Homo sapiens: one gene and its partner. The protein of the gene in region 1 interacts with the protein of each later gene in a biochemical or structural test. Each region holds a gene or a part of one and is shown in the gene's direction. Other genes may lie near its edges.

Region 1 (3,596 bases):
CCTCCCAAAGTGCTGGGATTATAGGCATGAGCCCCCACACCTGGACACAAAATACATTATATACTCTAAAGTATAGGATTACTTTAAGAGAAGGAAACTAAAAGTATGATGGCTTACTTTGTAATCCATAACTTCACAGTTTTCCCTTCCTGCAGCTTTCACAGAAAAAACCAGGTGCCTGGTACTGGGTCCTTCTCTCTGCCAAGCAGGAGTAAGGCGGCAGAGCCAACCCTGCATCTGCAGTTAGAAGCTCTCCATGACGACAGGACGCAGCTTCTCACCCAACTGTTTGCAGCCTTCTCCTTTCCACCTACTGATTGACTCCTGAGCTGAAGCCTGGTGTTATCCTGTTTGCATGTAGTTTGCCATGAGTTAGAACAGTGAGTAAAGCTCTGCTTTTTAAAGCTGTGCAGAAAGATTCAAAAACTTCTGGAAAGGCTTTCTTATCCAGGGCAGATTCTTGTCAGTCCTTATTGGGGACCGAGATTTCATCTGGTTTCATAATAGATAGTGGGGACCTGCGGGAGACCCCAAGTCCTCTTCATTAAGTGCTGAGAATGTCTTGAAACATTTTCCTTCCCTGAGTTGCCCTTAAAGAATAACACCACCAGGCTGGATGCAGTGGCTCACGCCTGTAATTCCAACACTTTGGGAGATTGAGGCAGGAGGATCACTTGTGGTCAGGAGTTCAAGACCAACCTGGCCAACATGGTGAAACTCCGTCTCTACTAAAAATATAAAACTTAGCTGGGCGTGGTGGTGTGTGCCTGTAGTCTGAGCTACTCCAGAGGCCAAGGCAGGAGAATTGCTTGAACCCGGGAGGCAGAGGTTGCAGAGAGCTGAGATCGCGCCACTGTGCTTCAGCCTGGCGACAGAGAGACTCTGTCTCAAAGAATAAAAATAAAAAATAGCACCACCAGATCCTTTTCCCTCATTCTGATGGAGATGCTGCAAAAGCCAGCGAAGGCTGGGTGCTGAGAGACCTCAGAAGGCCCTGCTTTACTGGGGCTTATCTTGCAATGGAAGCCGTACCAGTGAAGGCAGTTGAACATATTATACAACCAGTGCCTATGAGATTATGTGGAAATCCACATATGTGTTATACTTACAGGCATACCTTTTTAAAGACAAGTTTGGGTTTAAAAAGAAACTACTTGGCATACTGTATATTAGGCTGGCCCTAGTATACCAAGTACACAGATTAAATGTAAAAGTATTTGTGGGCATGTGGATCTGTGGGGAGATTGCTGGAGTGTAGTGGATTCAGGAGACTCCCCCACCCCTTTAGGAGCTGACCATTTATGGGGGGTGTTGGCGGCAGATTCTTGCCTCTCAAAAGCATTATGTATTCATTTCAAAAGCAAAATTAATTTTGGTTCAGTTTAGCTTTTTTTCCTGATCCTTTAGAATTTCAACGTGCCTTCTTGAAAATTCTCCCTTTTTAGATAACCCACAAATTCATTTCTTTATATTTTCACTCCACTGGAAATGGAGGCTCAAGGAGGAGACAGGCAAAGCCGTCTTTCTTGGCCAACACTGCTCTCACCAGTCTATCATGGTCTTCTTTCAATGTCTGCTTTATTATAACCAGAGATGATAGAAGGAGGGTGGGATCACTGTCCCGAAGACTTGGGGGCGTATATTTTTAAAAACTTCTATGAGCTATGCCTCCTTAGCCTTCCCTCTCCACCCACATTCCTCAGGTTGAGGTTCCTGGGGCAGAGCTGGAAGGCCTAGTCTGTCTCATGCTCCTGCTGAGGAAGTCCAGCCCAGGAGAGGCCAGGTGCCCTGGCACTCCCAAGCAATTAAGGCCAGCTGGCATCATAGCCTTCCCATCCACCCCTACTCACTGACCCCGTCCCCCCGTCCCACCCACCGCAGTGGACAGCTGCCTGAATCCACTAATCTGGGGCTGGGTGGGTGTTTCCTGCATGTTTGAGATTTTAGGAGGAAATCAAAATAAAGAAACAAAGCCTTTGTTTTATTTCTGGACTCCCAACTGGGTATGGCTGGAGGGATGGAAAGCAGGGAACAGGAGGAGCAGGTCACTTGGCACTTCAACAAAATAACCATTCTAATAGAGCATTTAACAGGAACTTTTTCTATTTAGGGTTGGGGTGGGTAAATAGGAAAGACGGCAGGGCTGGGAGAGCCCCTTTGTGTGGAAGGAGAAGGTGGGGCCGCCCTTGCCCCAAGCGGGGCCTCTGGCAGTGCCTGGTGTTCAGGCAGGGAGGGGTCTGAGGCCACCCAGCCGGGCTGCAGAATTGGCAGCCTGGGGACTCAGGGACTTTCAGTCCTCCCTTCCTGAAGGAACCCTCTGCTCCAGTTCTGTCCCACTACTTGTCTGTGTGAATCTCCACCTCTATAGCCTCCTCTTCCATATCTGTAATGGGAGTATCCCAGCCACACTCTGGCCTTTCTTCTCTAGTCCAGTTATACTGGGTCAGGCTCTCACCTGACATGTGGAAATGAAGAGGTACATCCCCCAGTATTTCTTAATTCTTCCAAAGGATTTTCTCCTTGTAGAAATTCTCTGAGGGTTTCATTTATTTTCTTTAAAAATTGCCCAAGTATTGATGACAGCCCTCCCCATCTGCAGTATTTCTGAAGATTTCAGGGTATGGGCCATGCCCACTGGCCGCCTGGCCTCCACTCCACTTTGCCCCATGTGCATACAGTAAGGTTGGCTTCTTCATCTGCTAAGCCACTATTATTGCATGTAACAGGCATCCACCAAGGGCTTTTAAGAAAGGGAGTTGTCTGCAGCCCAGATCAGGGCAGAAGTTAAAAATGAATGTCAGACACCCTCCCCTTGCTTGCTCACACCCTTGGAGAATGTCTCTGTGGCTGTCTCCTCAAACCTAGTTTACTGCTATTTTCCAGGGACCAATTTTCCTGGATACTTTCCCCCAGACCTTCTGAAAACTCCAAATTTTCATTACTTTTGATTGCAGAACAAGGATAACAATCTGTCTTAGACTAGGCTGTGGGCTGCCCTTGTCAGATGTAAAGGGGTCTGGGCATGGTGGCTCACGCCTGTAATCCCAGCACTTTGGGAGGCTGAGGTGGGTGGATCACTTGAGGTCAGGAGTTCGAGACCAGCCTGGCCAACATGGTGAAACCCCATCTCTACTAAAAAAATACAAAAATTAGTGAGGCCTGGTGGCATGTTCCTGTAGTAACAGCTACTTGGAAGGCTGAGGCAGGAGAGTCGCTTGAATCCAGGAGGCAGAGTCTGCACTGAGCCAAGATTGTGCCATTGCACTCCAGCCTGGGCGACAGAACAAGACTCTCTCAAAAAAAAAAACAAAGATATAAAGGGGCCATTAAATAACTCATCTAAAAAAGAATTAGGCACTCTAGACCTTACCTTTACCTACAGTAAGAACCAGCAGAAGTGCTGGGATTATTAAGCTATCATTATTACTAGCCAGGTCAAATCAGTCCTCTCCTAATGACCAGGGCAAAGCCAGGTGTTATTTTTTCCCTTTCCTGTTAGAACATTTTGTAACATAAGGATTAGAGATGATGTAGATTGACAATATTTATTGAGTACCTTCTCTGTGCCAGATATGTGCTGGGCATTGGAGATACAG
Region 2 (3,500 bases), about 130 Mb from region 1:
GTATTTTTAGTAGAGATGGGGTTTCTCCATGATAGTGAGACTGGTCTCGAACTCCCGACCTCAGGTAATCTGCCCACCTCGGCCTCCCAAAGTGCTGGGATTTACAGGTGTGAGCCACTGCGCCTGGCCCCTGCCTGGAAATTCTTAAGAATTAAATATTATTTTCTTTGAGTAAGTAATAATGTCAGATGTCACAAAATTTAAAGGATATAGAAAGTTATGTTGTGCATAGTTATTCTACGTTCTCCTTTGTTCTCTAGCTACCCAGCTTCCTTTCACAGAGGGAAATGTGAATTCTTATGTATCCTATTTTGTGACGACACAAAAATATTTAAGGGTAGATGTGCTGGCCTTACTTTCTTGCTCAAATCTTCCAGGCTCTCCCTGGCTACCAGACTAAGTATATACAATTCTTGCTTCTGTGTCTTGCTCACATGGCTTTCTCATAGTAATAGTATGTTTAGTGGAAATCAAAAGCCAGTATTTTTAGGCCCCTGTAGGTGCAGGCCAGTGCACTTGGTGCAGCATAAGGCAAGTTCCTACCTTCAAGGACCTTATCTAATTGAGAGAGGCTGACATTTCCTTACTTTTATCTATTCCTCTTTTTTTTTTTTTTCCCCGAGATGGAGTTTCACTCTTATCACAAAGGCTGGCGTACAGTGGCGTGATGTTGGTTCACTGCAACCTCTGTCTCCCGGGTTCAAGTGATTCTCCTGTCTCAGCTTCCCAAGTAGCAGGGATTACAGGCATCTGCCACCACGCCCGGCTAAATTTTGTATTTTTAGTAGAGATGGGGTTTCATGATGTTGGCCAGACTGGTCTTGAACTCCTGACTGCAGATGATCCACCTGTCTCAGCCTCCCAGAATGCTGGGATTACAGGTGTGAGCCACCGCAGTGGCCAAGTTGAATTTCTTGTATAGATGTCTTATGTCTCAGTTTAAAAATGAGGCATGTCTTACTCTTGCCTATATATTTCCAGTGGGGCATGTCTTATCCTTTTTTATATATCTCCAGTTCTCAAAACCTTGTCTTACACAGCAAACATTAATCAGAGGTTAATCACTTATGGATTTAGTTTCACTCTACTGCCATCTCTCCAAAATGCTTACAGTAAAGAGGCTACACTTACTAAATTCAAACTTAGAACTTTGTAACTTAGGACCTGTCTGTTGGAGGAGGTAAGTTGCTTAAGCTTCTCCCTCTATTGGGCATTATATGTAGAGTGCTCTAGGTTCTGCCTGCTAGCTCCTTGATGACATTTGCCTGCTTTAGCAGGACACTGACTCTTCAGCTCAAGCAGCTGTTACCATGCTGGCTATTTCCTTTTGCATTCATAGGTTTTAGATATGGAAGAAAGTTATACCCAGAGAGAATGGGGGGATAAATGATAATCTTCTACCATTTTTGACCTTAGTCTGGTCCAGCATTATAGTGTGATTTTGAGAGGAGAGATTGTGATTTCCCTGGCTAGTATTATCTAGTATTGCCTGACAATGCAAAATGGACCCCTAGGCTGTCTTATGTAAGTTGGAAGGGGGCGGATTGGGGGTGGGGTGTGTGTGTGTGTATCTACAATCCAGTGACATTTAACAACATTCACAATGTCTTAAAACCATCGCCACTACTCGTTTCCAGAACCTTTTTGTTACCTCAAACAGAAACAGTACTCATTAAGCAAGAACTCCTCATTCCTCCCTATGCCCAGTTCCTCGTAACCCCTATTCTACTTTCTCTCTATGAATTTGCCTATTCCAGGTACCTCATGTAAGGGGAGTCATACACTATCTGGCCTTTTTTGTCTGGCTTATTTTACTTAGCACATTTTTGAGGTTTATCCATGTGGTGGTGGCATGTATCTGTATTTTATTCCTTTTTATGGCTGAATAATATTTCATTGTATGAATATATCATTTTGTTTATCTCCTCATCAGTGATGGACACTTGGATTATTTCCACCTTTTGGTTGTTGTAAATAATGCTGCAGTGAACATTGGTGTACAAATATCTGTTGGAGCCCCTGCTTTCAGTGCCTTAGGGTAATGCACAGGAGTAGAATTACTGGATCATATGGTAATTCTGTGTTTACTTTTTGAGGAACTGCCAAACTGTTTTGCACAGTGACTGCACCATTTTACATTTCCCACCAGCAAAGCACAAGGGTTCCAGTTTTGCCACATCTTTTCCAACACTTGTTATTTTTTCTTTTTTAATTTTTAAAGTAACAATCTTGGGCTGGGCACGGTGGCTCATGCCTGTAATCCCAGCACTTTGGGAGGCCGAGGCGGGCGGATCACCTGAGGTCAGGAGTTCGAGACCAGCCTGGCCAACATGGTGAAACCCCGTCTCTACTAAAAGTACAAAAAAAATTCGCTGGGCTTGTTGGCGCATGCCTGTAATCCCAGCTACTTGGGAGGTTGAGGCAGGAGAATCGCTTGAACTCGGGAGGCAGAGGTTGCAGTGAGCTGAGATTGCGCCATTGCACTCCACAAGAGTGAGACTTCGTCTCAAAAAATAAATAAATAAAATAACAACCCTAATGACTGTGAAGTGGTTGTAGGCTTTTTGCATTTTAAAAAATTATTATTTTTACTATTTTAGAGATGGCGGGGGGGGGGTCTCACTATGTTTACCAGGTTGGTCTCGAACTCCTGGCCTCCATTGATCCTCCCATTTTAGCCTCCTAAAGTACTGGGATTACAGGCTTGAGCCACTGCGCCCAGCCCTCCTTTTCTTCTTATTGCTACTTAGATGTAATGGGCAAACCAGAACCTTTGAATTTGGCTATATTTGGATCTGATGGGTTTTTTCCTCCCTCTTAAACTTGTGTATAATGTTGTTCAAAGGGATACATTATGTACACAATTAATGACATCTTTTTAAAAAGAACACTTTCTTTCATCCTTGTGAGGTGTAAGAAGAAAAATAAGCAAAAAAAAAAATGAATAAAGTTTTTCTATAAGTTGATACACACAGTTGTAGTTACTTTATACTCATACCCTTTTTTTGTGTTGTGAGTGACACAGTCTCACTCCATTGCCCAGGCTGGAGTGCAGTGGTGCGATCTCCACTCACCGTAGCCTTGACCTCCCAGGCACAAGCCATCTTCCCTCCTGAACCTGCTGAGTAGCTGGGACTACAGGTGTGTGCCACCACACTCAGCTAATTTTTGTATTTTTTGTAGAGATGGGGTTTTGCCATGTTGCCCAGGCTGATGTCGAAGTGCTGAGCTCAAGTGATTCTCCCGCCTTGGCCTCCCAAAATGCTGGGATTATAGGCATGAGCCACTGTGCCTGGCCTCTCATACTTTTTTATTCTATAATGTATTTAGGGCCAGCCTCTGTGGCTCATGCCTATAATCCCAGCACTTTGGGAGGCCAAGGAGGGAGGATTGCTTGAGGCCAGGAGTTCAAAACCAGCCTGGGCATCATAGTGAGACCCCATCTCTAAAACCAAAAAAACTAGTCAGGCATGTGGTATGCGCCTGTAGTCCCAGCTACT

The links. Proteins that work in one complex are often made in the same cells at the same time.
Region 2: the proteins of MRAS (region 1) and RAF1 form a complex in vitro, tested with the Homo sapiens proteins (one study listed by BioGRID).

What each region holds. Positions count from the first base shown.
Region 1 is NC_000003.12:138,355,039-138,358,634, forward strand, and holds part of MRAS (ras-related protein M-Ras isoform 1 precursor), read left to right. Parts: exon of another isoform or gene 1-380; intron 381-3,596. UniProt on the Homo sapiens protein: Signal transducer in the Ras-MAPK signaling pathway that regulates cell proliferation and survival. Core component of the SHOC2-MRAS-PP1c (SMP) holophosphatase complex that regulates the MAPK pathway activation.
Region 2 is NC_000003.12:12,654,118-12,657,617, reverse strand, and holds part of RAF1 (RAF proto-oncogene serine/threonine-protein kinase), read left to right. Parts: intron 1-3,500. UniProt on the Homo sapiens protein: Serine/threonine-protein kinase that acts as a regulatory link between the membrane-associated Ras GTPases and the MAPK/ERK cascade, and this critical regulatory link functions as a switch determining cell fate decisions including proliferation, differentiation, apoptosis, survival and oncogenic transformation.